Homo sapiens: one gene and its partners. The protein of the gene in region 4 purifies or fractionates together with the protein of the main gene of each other region. This does not show direct contact. Each region holds a gene or a part of one and is shown on either strand. Other genes may lie near its edges.

What was found. Proteins that work in one complex are often made in the same cells at the same time.
Region 1: the proteins of LYZL2 (region 4) and ERO1B purify together in Homo sapiens (affinity purification with mass spectrometry; 2 studies listed by BioGRID and IntAct, with this or other methods). This does not show direct contact.
Region 2: the proteins of LYZL2 (region 4) and TMEM67 purify together in Homo sapiens (affinity purification with mass spectrometry; 2 studies listed by BioGRID and IntAct, with this or other methods). This does not show direct contact.
Region 3: the proteins of LYZL2 (region 4) and CERCAM purify together in Homo sapiens (affinity purification with mass spectrometry; 2 studies listed by BioGRID and IntAct, with this or other methods). This does not show direct contact.

What each region holds. Positions count from the first base shown.
Region 1 is NC_000001.11:236,233,459-236,236,958, forward strand, and holds part of ERO1B (ERO1-like protein beta precursor), read right to left. Parts: intron 2,941-3,500; coding exon 2,820-2,940; intron 2,378-2,819; coding exon 2,331-2,377; intron 1-2,330.
Region 2 is NC_000008.11:93,782,394-93,785,893, reverse strand, and holds part of TMEM67 (meckelin isoform 1 precursor), read right to left. Parts: intron 3,500-3,500; coding exon 3,434-3,499; intron 673-3,433; coding exon 516-672; intron 1-515. UniProt on the Homo sapiens protein: Required for ciliary structure and function. Part of the tectonic-like complex which is required for tissue-specific ciliogenesis and may regulate ciliary membrane composition.
Region 3 is NC_000009.12:128,427,357-128,430,856, reverse strand, and holds part of CERCAM (inactive glycosyltransferase 25 family member 3 isoform a precursor), read right to left. Parts: intron 2,556-3,500; coding exon 2,436-2,555; intron 2,101-2,435; coding exon 2,024-2,100; intron 1,928-2,023; coding exon 1,821-1,927; intron 1-1,820. UniProt on the Homo sapiens protein: Probable cell adhesion protein involved in leukocyte transmigration across the blood-brain barrier. Does not express any beta-galactosyltransferase activity in vitro.
Region 4 is NC_000010.11:30,619,754-30,623,253, reverse strand, and holds part of LYZL2 (lysozyme-like protein 2 precursor), read left to right. Parts: intron 1-3,500.

The DNA.
Region 1 (3,500 bases), on a different chromosome or scaffold from region 4:
GTGGTGACCGGCACCTTGTCATCCCAGCTGCTCAGGAGGCTGAGGCAGAGAACTGCTTGAACCCAGGAGGCGGAGGTTGCAGTGAGCCGAGATCACACCACTGCACTCCAGCCTGAGTGACAGAGTGCGACTCTGTCTCAAGAAAAAAAAAAAAAGATTTGCACATTTTAAAATACAATAACATCAGAAAGCAACTAAAAAGTCATAAAGACCACTATTTTCAATAATTAATTAATTACTACATAAAGTTGCTCCTTTAATCATTATGCACACAATCCTCTCTGAACATTACTGTTTCCAACCTGGAATATTTTTCTCTTTTAAATTACTGCTCCTCAGCAGAGACAGGCCTTAGTAAGAGTATATCCCAAACTGTAATCAGTGAAACCCTTGGGCAAGGTGCTGCTTCCAGGAGGCCTAGAGGTGAGGAAGAGGCCAGAGGTTGGGCTCTAGGGCAACACAGCAGCTCTGCCTATCAGCTTTATTATGTAGGTTCTGAAATAAGATTTCATTTTTGGACAAAAGTTCCTATTGCTCAAAACCTGTTAGAAAATAGTTGTATAAGCCTAGGGGTTATGACTCAGAAATGTGGAAGAAAGAGTTAAGAAGATTAAAGAACTATTAATCAACCAATTTCAATGGAGATAGCAGGTAAATAGCAACAGCAAGAGCTATTAATTACTTCATAGAGTACTCCTATAACAGCTAGGAACCATTCTCTTTACCTAGTCTTGTCTTCTTTCATATTTCATTTTTCTTCTTTTCTCCTCTTCCCTTCCTCTTTTTCTATGTAGTAGTTTCCTTTTCCTCATCTTTTCAGCAGTGTTATGTCTCTGATATATCACTAACATGGAAATGAAGTGTTTCTTAGGACTTGATGGTTTTCTTAAGTGAAAAAATTGTATTTTCTGCTTTAAAAGTATTAAGTGGCTGTAGAAAAGGTCTGGAAGAACACCTTTCAAACTCTGTACTATGGAATAGAAGAGCTTTCCCTTTTCACTTTATATAACTACTATATTGCTTCAATTTTTATAAAATTTTGTTTAATTAAAACCTTTAAGTTGAAAATAGAAAAGTTGTGAGGCAAAAGTAGTAAAAGAGACAAAGGATAAGAAGCCAGGCACGTCTTTTTCAGGACCAACTTCCTTCTCCAGGCAGTTTCAATGTGAATTTGGGGAAAACAAGTATTTGCCACATTGTGACAGAGTGAGCATGAAAAAGCAGTCTATGCAGTCAACCCTTCCAAGTCTATTTGGTTCTCAGAAAGGTCTAAAGATACAAATTTAGATCAGGAAATCAAATTTCTTAAAACACTCCCCGTCTAAAGAAAACACTGGAATGGCAGGTCAATGACAGAGTTGCTCCCAGGGTTTGGTTCCTCACTGAGAACAGACTGAGGATGTATCCCACTGATGACAGTAATGCTGTTCCATTGAAATATAACGCCACACACGAGTGTTAACTTAAAATGTTTCTAATAGCCACATTTTTAAAATTCAAAAGTATACACACACTACAACAAAAATATGTTACATGACGCATAGGTTATAGTAGTCTTACCAAAACAATAAGGTTCTGTTTAACAATATAGTTTTTACATCTAAATAAACTAAGATTAAATACAATTTAAAATTCAGTTTCACACTAGCCAAATTTCATGTGTTCCACAGTCCCATGTGGAAACTGGTTACTTTATTGGACAGTACAGATATAGAGCACTGCTAAAGTTTCTAAAATTGTTGTACATTTTTCCTACTGAAAGTGTGGTACATGAGTCGGCACCTGAGGCAGCACCTAGGAGTGTGTTTGGACCTCTCCCAAGAAATACAGAATCAGAAGCTGTATGTTACCAAGGCTCCTGGGTGATGTGTATGCACACTGAAGTCTAGAAGCACTGTTACGAGACACTGGCTGTCAAACTTGGTTGCATACTGGAATCATGTGGAGAGTTTAAAAAATAACAATGCCTGGTGTTCTCATTCCAAGGATTCTGACTTAATTAATATAGCGTAGGGCCTGAGCAACCAGATTTTTTAATAAGTCCCCAGGAAATCTTTGATATATATTGATTACTCACATATTTTAATTATTTTACATAAACTTCCTAGTTTAGGGTCTGGCACAGAGCAGGCATTCAATAAATGACAGTAATTATGTAAAACAACATGCCTAGAGATCTCGAGACTCGACTATGAACTAATCTTACACTTTTTGTTCATCATTCAAATTAAACAAAATATAAAAATGAAAGTTTTTTCAATATGAAGTTTAGTTATAAAGACATTTTATAAACAATGAAAAGCATGAAAATGTACATATGAAAAACCTACCTCGGCTAGGCGCCAGAGGATTTAAAGGACGATAAACAGATCGAGGCCTGAAAAAGAAAGCATAATACCCAAACATAGAATGTTTTAACTTTTATAGTGTATAATTTTATTCCAATAGAAACAAATACTCCCCTCCCCACCCTCTTTTTTTTTTGAGACAGAGTTTCACTTAGTCACCCAGGCTGGAGTACAGTGGCGCAATCTCTGCTCATTGTAACCTCTGCCTCCCGGGTTCAAGTGATTCTCCTGCCTCAGCCTCCCAAGTAGCTGGGATTACAGGCACCTGCCATCATGCCCGGCTAATTTTTTTGTATTTTTAGTTGACACGGGGTTTCACCATGTTGGCCAGGCTGGTCTTGAACTCCTGACCTCAGATGATCCACCCACCTTGGCCTCCCAAAGTGCTGGGATTACAGGCGTGAGCCACAGCACCCGGCCTCTCCCGACCCTCTATCAGTCGTTCCTTCTTCCCCCACCCCCTCCAGTTACTTGAAACAGTTCTCTTCATAGATGCTGTTCCACACTCTCCATGCAGAGGTCCCTTTATAGCCAGTGTAACGCTCTGGGTTCAGCAATAGGTCTACATACTGAGCAGCTGGAGATCTCTCATCTGAACAAGAAAAAATTCATAAAAACCATCCATATTTCACCATTTATCTAAGATTTAACAGTACAAAGCAAACCGGACTACTCAAAGGTAAGAAAAATGTCATGCTTTTCAAGTAATCTCCAACTTAAATGGTATAGTGGTTAGTATACTTGTGACTGTACTTGATGCAAGATTTGTAATAACTTGGACAAATTCCTTAAGAGAAGAAAAAACAACTCTTCCATTTCCTTTGGATACGCAGTGCTCTTTTAAGTAATATAACATCCCCTTCACCTTATTAGAGACATGAATCATTTCTTAAGTTTTAACCACCCAGGATTGAAAAGACCAAACAGAATCATAACCTGCTTTAATATTTCATATGATTTCTTCTCTAAGAATATATCCACCTAACCACGCACTTGGAAACATTTTGTAACATATATTGTATTAAAAATAGAGATTTCCCTGCTACTCTCTGCTTGGACTCATGAAGTAAACGGCTCCATAACTTTGTGATCCAAATCTGATTATTCATAAAGCTATACCATGCTCTAGTTTTTAAAAGTTATATATTACTA
Region 2 (3,500 bases), on a different chromosome or scaffold from region 4:
TTATGTTGCCTAGGTTGGTCTTCAATTTCTAGGCTCAAGCAATTCTCTCGTCTTGGCCTCCCAAAGTGCTGCGATTATAGGCGTGAGCCACCGTGCCTTGGACTTGAATGTCTTCTGATTGAACTTTTCATAAATTTGGAAGGCTTTCCCCTGCAAATTACCTGAAAAAGCAGAATTTTATAACATGAATAACAACAAAAGAAACTAATTTGTCCAAAAAAGCATATTCGGGACAGCTTGACGAAAAAGCCCCAATTTACGGTTCTACTAATGTTTCTCAGGATATACCCTCAGCAACAGTATAATTTCTTAACAATATGTCTGGCAATAAAATTAGCAACAGTTTCTAAGTCCACCAGCAATTTATTGTTTCATTTTTTGGCACACTGTATAGAACCACATAAGAGAGAATTCATGACCTTTCTTATAATCAGTGGTTTATTAAATTATCATGTAGGTTAACTTATTTGTTGATTTCTGCTCAGGGAAAAGAGTGGTATGTATGGATGTCTTACCTTGGTTCACAAATATCTTATTATGTTGAAGATTTAGGTTTAACACAGGCACAGCCAAAATATATTGATGTTGATTTTCATCAGTATATTCAAGGTACACATCATAAAATATAGGAGTGGGAAAGTCAATTAAGATCTTAGAGATAGGAATCTCACACTGAAAAGTAAAATTAAAAATAAAAGCACATAAAACAGCAACTTAAAGTACTAAAAAGTAAAAAATAAAATAAAAGATCACAATTGAAAATTAGCAAGCATATTTATTATCTTCAGAGTGTTTTTCTAGTTTTGCAAAATGTCTTTATACTACCTTGTTTATATGCATTTTCATTTGTCTTCCAAAACATGAATACTATGATTATTTTATAAGGACCAAAACCACTAACAGTAAAGTACTGCTTTGAGAATTTTGAGAACTTCTTGAGCTTCAACTCAGATGAAGGAGGTATACCTTCATTCTCAATATTAAGGGTACATCAGTGAAAAGGTTTAAAACTACTGTCCTACGGGATAAATTCCCAATTTTTTCTCCTGCTGTACAATGATGTATATGATCTGGCTTCCATTAACCAAGCCAGGCTTATCTCTCATTACTCCCTATCAGTCTATGGTGGTCCATTCATACTAATCTACTTGTAGTTTCTAAATATGCCATACTACTGTATGTCTCTCTGTCATTACAAATGTGATTTCTGTCTGATATTTCCTTCCCCACTGTGTTCTTCTGGAAAACTCATATTCATTATACAAATCCAAGTATCACTTACTTTGTGAAGCCTTTCTATACTTCCCCAGGAATCAGTACCTTGTACATACCTATAGAATGACACTTATCACATTCTTTGCAATTCTTTGTCTATATAACTGTTTTGCCCACTAGTCTATGAAGGACTTGAGAGTTAGCCAGGTTCAAAGAAATAAAAATGCTTTTTAAACCTGATGATAGAACATTGGCTCCACAGTTTATGTGACACAAGTCTTTGAGTAAATTACCTAATTACACGGCATAATTTCCTCATCTGTGAAGCACAGATACTATGTATCTCATATAGTTATTTTATGAATCAAATGGGATAATAACGATAAAATGCTGAGCACACAGATAGGCATTACATAAGTGTTGATCTTTCTGGCCTATGTTAGAAGCACAATAACATTTATTTTAACAACAACAGCAACAACAACGTGTAAATCATTTCTGACAAAAGAAGTAAATTCATGTTCATGGTAGAAAATTTGGAAATTATAAAAAAGAAAAAAATAATTTCTAACCCCACTATCCAGAGGTAACCACTGTTAGTAGATTCTTCCAATCTACTTTCCATAATGGTATTTTTTGTTATGGTTTTGTTCTATGGTTGTGCGTGGAACTTTATCAAGATGTACTTTTACAGACTAATGAATTGATATGGTTTGGCTGTGTCCCCACCCAAATCTCATCTTGAACTGTAGTTCCCATAATCCCCATGTGTCATGGGAAGGACCCGGAGGGAGGTAATTGAATCATAGGGGCAGTTACCCTCATGCTGTTCTCATGATAGTGAGTGAGTTCTCATGAGATTGATGGTTTTATGAGGGGCTTCTCCCCCTTTTGCTCAGTACTTCTCTTCCTGTCACCACGTGAAAAAGGACATGTTTGCTTCCCTTCCACCATGATTGTAAGTTTCCTGAGGCCTCCTCAGCCATAGTGAACTGTGAGTCAATTAAACCTATTTCCTTTGTAAATTACCCAGTCTCGGATGTGTTTTTATTAGCAGCGTGAGAACGGACTAATACATGCATGTTTTTCAAGTATTGAATGGCTCATAATATTCCTTAGTAAAATAATGTAATTTCAAAATAGGTATCAAAGTAAGGAAAGTCAGAGAAGGAAGGAGAAAGAAAAGAATGGAAGAAGATGAAGGAATTATTTTTATTTGTTATGAGCGGGTAGAAGAAGGGAGTAACTTTTTATTAGTCATTTAAAAAAAGTAGTATTTTTACTTTATTTCAAAATGCTCAGAAGTAAGCATTACTTTTTAAGACCTATAAGCCTAGAAGCAGATAAACAATTTATTATGAAGATGTAATATTATATGATGTTTAAGACTCTAGGCCGGACGAGGTGGCTCACACCTGTAATCCCAGCACTTTGGGAGGCCAAGGCTGGTGGATCAGTTGAGGTCAGGAGTTTGAGACAAGCGTGGTCAACACAGCAAAACCCCATCTCTATGCAAAACACAAGAATTAGCTGGGTGTGGTGGTACATGCCTGTTGTCCCAGCTACTCAGGTGGTTGAGGCACGAGAATTGCTTGAACCCAGGAGGCAAGAGATTGCAGTGAGCTGAGATTGCACCACTGCACTCCAGCCTGGGCAACAGAGCGAGACTCTGTCTCAAAAAACAAAAAACTCTATAGATAACAAGGTGCTCTGTTTATGCCACTTAAATTAAGCTTTTATGTACCCAGGTAATAAAAAATTATATTAAATAGTGAAATTATTCTTCACTATTAAAAACATTTCCGGCCAGGCACGGTGGCTCATGCCTGTAATCTCAGCACTTCGGGAGGCTGAGGAGGGCAGATCATCTGAGGTGGGGAGTTCAAGATCAGCCTGATCAACATGGAGAAACCCTGTCTTTACTAAAAATACAAAAAATTAGCTGGGCGTGGTGGCACATGTCTGTAATTCCAGCTACTCGGGAGGCTGAGGCAGGAGAATCACTTGAACCTGGGAGGCGGAGGTTGTGGTGAACTGAGATTGCACCACTGCACTCCAGCCTGGGCAACAAGAGCAAAACTCCATCTCAAAAAAAAAAAAAAAAAAACCAAGAATAAAAAATTTCCAATCTCAAAAATTTAAGTATTATTCCAATTACTGCTGACATGATATTTTGAAAAATAAAGCTAAAATATAGACTAATATCGTTCAAACTTACATTTTGTTGGTAGGTTGTTCCAAATGAATAAGCAGCATTTAGCCTTGTCTCTGTGTCTGGACAAAGC
Region 3 (3,500 bases), on a different chromosome or scaffold from region 4:
TTTAGTAGAGATGGGGTTTCACCATGTTGGCCAGGCTGGTCTCGAACTCCTGACCTCAGGTGATCCACCCACCTCAGCCTCCCAAAGTGCTGGGATTACAGGCATGAGCCACCACGCCCAGCCACCTCGGGAGTTCTGAGAGGATAACTATTAGGACATGTCCTAATATGATAAGACAGGGGTGACCCTTGAGGAAAGGGTGGGATGGTAGGGGGCTGCCTGAGGGGGAGGCACTCTAGGAAGAATGTGGGAACATGATAGATACTTCTTGGGCAGAGGCCCAAGCAAAGGATGGATAGCCTATGGTCAAGAGACCTCGGGGGATGTGGTGTCTCACACCTGTAATCCCAGTGCTTTGGGAGGCCAAGGTGGGAGGATTGCTTGAGGCCAGGAGTTCAAGACCAGCCTTGGCAACAGAGAAAAACCCCATCTCTCAAAAAAAAAATTTTTTTTGAGACAGAGTCTCACTGTTGTCGGCCCAGGCTGGAGTGCAATGGCACAATCTCGGCTCACTGCAACCTCTGCCTCCTGGGTTCCAGCAGTTCTCCTGACTCAGCCTCCCAAGTAGCTGAGATTACAGGCACCCACTACCACACCTGGCTAATTTTTGTACTTTTAGTAGAGAGGGGGTTTCACCATGTTGGTTGGCCAGGCTGGTCTCGAACTCCTGACCTCAGGTGATCCATCCATAACCTCCCAGAGTGCTGGGATTACAGGCATGAGCCACCGTGCCCAGTCAAAAATTTTTTTTCATTAGGTGGACATGGTGGTGCATGCCTGTAGTCCGTTATTCAGGAGGCTGAGGCAGGACGGTCACTTGAGGCCAGGAGTTCAAGACCAGCCTAGGCAACAGAGTGAGACCCTATCTCTATGAAAAAAAAACAAAACAAAACATTTTTTTTAATCCGGGTGTGGTGATGCAAGCCTGTAATCACAGCTACTTGGGAGGTGAGGGAGGAGAATCACTTAAAACCTGGGAGGCGGATGTTGCAGTGAGCCAAGATTGCGCCACTGCACTCCAGGCCTGGGCGACAGAGCGAGACTCTGCCTCAAAAAAAAAAAAAAATTCTTTTTAATTAGCTGGATGTGATAGTGCACACCTATAGTCCCAGTTACTCAGAAGGCTGAGGTGGGAGGATTACTTGAGCCCAGGAGTTTAAGGCAGCAGTGAGCCATGTTTGTGGCACCGCACTCCAGCCTGGGCAACAGACGGAGGGCAACAGACGGAGACGCTGTCTCTAAAAAAAAAATAAAAAGAGCTGAGTACTTGAAGCAAATGGCAGCCGACATATGGGGCCATAGGACCCCTGGTGGCTGGAGAAGCCTAGCCTCTGGGTTCCTCGGGGGAACATGGCTGGCCTTTCCTAATCCCCACGCATCAGTAGCTCAAGTCCAGGATGGAGAGTAATAATAAGGGAGACACCTAAGCCTTTGGAAACTATGTGCCCGGCCCTGGCTAACTTCACTAAACTCACAAAACCCTAAGAGAAGGGCACAGTTATCTGCTGTTTATACAAACGGGCTGAGAGATGGGGGTAGCTGGCTGGAGGTCACACATTCAGTAACTGGTAGAGCTGGAACCCAGGCCCTGGAGCCTCAGCCACTGTGCTCTCCTCCTCTGGTGAGCAGCAGGAGGGCATCTTCTCCCACGTGTGTCTGCTCCGGAACTCCCTGAGAGGATATTACTCAGACCCTATTTGGATACTACATGGGACAGGAAACTCATTCAACCTGTCTGCTTTTCCCAGTCCTAGCGGGCTAGGAGATGGACCACACTGCTTCCCCAAGCGCACAGGGCCCCCCCCACCAGGCAGGCTCACCAGCCATCCACAGCGTCCACCACCCTCCCAGAGATCTCCATCTCCCAGAGCGAGGCGAGCATGCGTTCCCGACGGTCAGGCCTGCGAGCCAGGCTGATGACAAAGACCTGGAGGAGGCAGGGGGGTGGGCGGTAAGTGCAAGGGAGCGGAAGAGGAGGGCCCATCCACCTCCTAACAGCGAGCCCACAGGCTGGGGGACTTACCTCGTCAAACCCTATCTTGCTGGGCCTCTTAGAGGGCCGAGTCACATGAGCTGAGGCCTGCATGCGGGGGCCGTCCACTGCAAAGGGAAGCACACCCCAAGCACGAGTCCCTACTGACTCCTGTTAGCAGTCACCCTGAAGTCCTAGCCCCCAGCCTCATTCCTGCCCCCTTTGGCAGAACACCCCACAGGACGGGACCTCAGAGATCACAGGATCCACCTGCCCCCATTGTAGGGATGCTAGACTAAGGCCCAACAGGGAAAGGGACTTTCTCAGAGTCATGGAACGAGTTAGGGACAAAGCTGGAACCCCAAGGCCAATGCCCGCTCCGTCCAGGGCCTAGGGAAAGGGGCACCGTGGGGAGGCAGGGAGCCCCGGCAGCAGGTGGGTGGAACAGTTCCCCAGCCCTCACCTAGTGCTTCTAAGATCAGGTGGATGAAGTTGACCCTCTCGTCTTCCAGCCCCTGGTGGGATTTCACCGGCACATTCATGTACCCATAACGGTGCTCATTGCACACGTGGACGGAGACCCCTGCAGAGACAGGCTGAGTGAGAGCTGCAGTGGAGGGTGGGGCTCTCAGAACCCAGCTGAAAGGTCCTAGGCCCAGCACTGCCAGTGACCCAACATGTCAGTCTTCTCTGGGACTCAGTTTCCCCACCTGTGGGACCAGAGGGAGAAAGGGCTTGGCTCACACAATATCTAAGGGGTCTTTCTACTGAAATGGTTCATTCATTCAATATACCTGTCCAGGGCACCCGCTGGGAGCCAGGGTTACGGCAGTGAGCAAGACTGAGTCCCTGCCCTCAGGGCATCAAGGTGAGGCAGGAGCAGACAAACTCCTACCCATCACAGCCACAGGGTGCCAGTGAGCCCCACTGCTCTGTCTCCTAAATCCCCCCACCTCTCCTGATCCCCACCACCCCACCTGGATCCAAGGGCCATCGCCTTTTCCCCACACCCCTCCACTTCACCTCACACCCTCTGGGGCTCCTCTCCACGATGTCTTTCACCTGGCAGCCAGAGTGGCCTTCCCCCGGCTTCAATATTTGTTACCTTTTTTTTTTTTTTGAGATGGAGTCCTGCTCTGTCACCGAGGCTGGAGTGCAATGGTGCGATCTTGGCTCATTACAACCTCTGTCTCCCAGGTTTGAGCAATTCTCCTGCCTCAGCCTCCTGAGTAGCTGGGAATACAGGTGTGCACCACCACATCCAGCTAATTTTTGTATTTTTAGTAGAGACGGAGTTTCGCCATGTTGGCCAGGATGGTCTCGAACTCCTGGCCTGAAGTGATCCACCCACCCTAGGCCATCCAAAGTGCTGGGATTACAGGCGTGAGCCACTGCACCCGGCCAATATTTGTTACCTTTATTATAATTATCCTCAGGGGCAGGCACACAGTGCCAATTAAAAAGCTAACCTAGGCGGGGCACAGTAGCTCACGCCTGTAATCCCAGCACTTTGGGAAGCCCAGGCAGG
Region 4 (3,500 bases):
TCCTTTCTAATTTTCTTACTTGTTCTACTATACGGTGAGAAATACATATTGAAATTTGCAACTATCATTTTAGCTTTGTCTATTTCACCTTTCAGTCTCGTCCATTTTTGAAGCTTTGTTCTTAGGCATATATTCTTTGAGGGTTGTTATGTCCTTGTGGTGAATTGACTCTTTTATCACTGGAGTCCAAGTTTCTCCTTAACTCTGGTGCTATTTCTCATCCAGAAATCTACTTTGTTTGATAGCAGTATAGCCCACTCTCGCTTTCTTTGAGGAAATATTTGTATAGTATGTTTCTTTCCATCCTTCTACTTTTAATCCATCTGTCTTTATATTTAAGGTGAATTATTTATAAGTCATGTAGAGTTATGTGTTGCTTTTATATCCATTCTGGTAATTACTGTTTTTCAGTAGGAGTGATTAAAACATAGGTCAGCAAATGTTTGCCTAAAGGGCCAAATGATAAATATTTTAGGCTTTTCAGGCCATATGGTTTCGATTGCAACTACCCAACCATGACATAGTGTGAAAGCAGCCATAGAAAGTATATAAATGAATGGGCCTGGCTGTGTTCCAATAAGACTTTATTTACAGAAACGGGAGATTGGCCTGTGGGTTATGCCATGATTAGGCCGTTTGCATTTAATGTGATTACTGATATGACTAGTTTTTTCTTTTTCTTTTTTTTTCTTTTTTTGTTTTGTTGAGTTGGAGCTTTGCTCTGTCGCCCAGGCTGGAGTACAGTGGCGCGATCTTGGCTCATTGCACCCTCTGCCTCCTGGGTTCAAGTGATTCTTCTGCCTCAGCTTCCTGAGTAGCTGGGACTACAGGCACATGCCACCACGCCCAGCTAATTTTTTGTATTTTTTTTAGTAGAGATGGGGTTTCACTGTGTCAGCCAGGATGGTCTCGATCTCCTGACCTTGTGATCTGCCTACCTTGGCCTCCCAAAGTGCTGGGATTACAGAAGTGAGCCACTGCACCCGGCTGATATGGCTAGTTTTAAATTACATCTTGCTATTTTGTTTTCTGTTTGTGCCATCTATTCTTGGTTCCATTTTTTCTGCCTTCTTTTGAATTTATTGAATATTTTTTAGTATTCTCTTTTATTTCCTCCATTGGTTTGTTAGCTATACTTCTATTTTGTTTTTAGTTGTTACTGTAGGGTTTCCAATAGGCATCATTATCTTATTACATCTTACCTTCAAGTAACACACCACTTCATATGTAACGTATGAGTTTCTTAACAGTATACTTCAATTTTTCCTATTCCATCCTTTGTGCTGTATTGTCATGCATTTTTCTTCTATATTTGTGTACCTCACAATGCATTTTTATAATTTTTTCTTTAAACAATTGTCTTTTAAATAAATTTTTAAATGAGAAAAAAGTTTTATAGTATCTATTACACATTATTATTTCCAATACTCTTCATTCCTTTGGTGGATTTACTTGAGCAGACAGTTAATTGATATCGTTTTCCTTCAGCCTAAAGAACTTTCTTTAACTTTGTTTTGTTTTGTTTTAGAGTAGAGGTCTATTAGCAAGCATTCTTTCTGTCTGAAAATATCTGTACTTATTTTGATTTTGAGGAATATTTTCTTTACATATAAAATTCTGGGCTGACAGTTCTTTTCCACCTCAAGTTGTTATTGTTGTTGTTTTGAGACAGGGTCGTGCTCTGTCTCAGAACAACACTGTGAGTGTAGTGGCATGATCACAACTCACTGCAGCCTTGACCTCCTGGACTCAAGTAATTCTCATGCCTCAGCCTCCTGAGCAGCTGGGACTACAGGCACGTGCCACCATGCCTGGCTGATTTAAAAAAAAAAAAATTGTGGAGATGGGGTCTCGTCATGTTACCCACGCTGGTCTCAAACTCCTGGGCTCAGGCAATCCTCTCACCTCAGCCTCCCAAAGTGCTGGGATTACAGTTGTGAGCCACCACACTTGGCTTCAAGTTTTTAAAGATATTCGGTTGCTTTCTGGCTTGCCTTGTGTATGATGGGAAACCAGTGATTTCCTTCTGTTTGTCCCCGGTATGTAATATGTGTTTTTTTTCTCTAGTTGTTTTTAAGATTTTCTCTTTGTCACTCATTTTCAGCAATTCGATGATGTGTGATATTTGTGTTTATCTTACTTGGTATTCATTAACATTTTGTATCCCTGAGTTTATAATTTTCATTAAATTTGGAAACATTTCAGCCATTCTTTCTTCTAATGCTTTTCTTTTCTCCTTCAAGAATTCTAACGGCATGTATGTTCGATCGCTGATGCTGTACCATTCATCATTGAGGTTCCTCGTTTTTTAGTATTTTTCCCTCCCTGTATTTTATTTTCAATAGTTTCCATTATTATGTCTTCAAGTCGGCTGTTACTTTTTTTTTTAATGCTAATCTGTTAAACTTATTGATTGGATGTTTCTTTTCAGATACTGTGTTTTTTATTTGGCATCATAATTTTGTTTCTTTCATTTCATTTTATTCCTGTTTCTCTTTAAGTCCTTGATATAAATCATCATATTTATAAGCAGTGATTTAAATTTCTTATCAGCTAATGCAATCAACTGTCCTTTCTGAGTCTTGCCCTTGACCGATCTTTTTCTTAGTATGTGTCACATTTCTCTGCCTCTGCGCATGGAATAATTTTTTATTGAATACACACACAGTGTATGTGTTGACGGCTCTTGTGAGTCCTCGGGTCCTGTCTTCTTAGTTTAAAAGAATTTCAACAAAAGACACATAGCAAAGGAGATGTAGCATAAAGTAATTTATTGAGAAAGAAAAAGACTATTTTGAAAGTTAGGTGCAGAATAGACAGTACACCCTGAGAGAGGAAGATATCAAGGCAGGCTGCTCGTGAAGATTGGACAACAAAGACTGGTACCAGGGATGCTCCCTTTAATGGAGACTTCCATGGTTACTCATAAGCGGGTGGGAAGAGGTGTTGCTAGTAAGCATGTTCTGGGCGATCCTCTTGGTGCACTTACTCAGTAGCTGTACATGATTGTCCATACATCTCATGTCTCATTAGCATCTTAAATCTCCACCCAGGGATCTGTTTTTTATTTTTATTTTTTGTGTGTTCTAATAAAACTTTATTTACAAAAACAGCAGTGGCCTCACGCTGCAGTTTACCAACCTCTGCCCTTGAGGAAATTCTAAACGATCCTTCTATTCTCCTTGTAGAAGATGATATTACACAATTTTTGGCATATGAAGAAGCAATCGATAAATACAAACACAAAAATATGTAGGAAAATCATATTATCTGTGCCAAACAGAAAATTGCAGAAATATTTCCTTTTTGCAGATTTTTGTGAATTTTTCCAGCTTTTTAACACTTGCAACATGCCATTTTTTAGTATTTGAAAGAGCTGTCTCTTTAATATCTAAATTTTCTTTTCTTTTTTTTAATTTTTTTATTATTGTACTTTAAGTTTTAGGGTACATGTACACAACGTGCAACTTTGTTACATATGTATACATGTGCCATTTTGG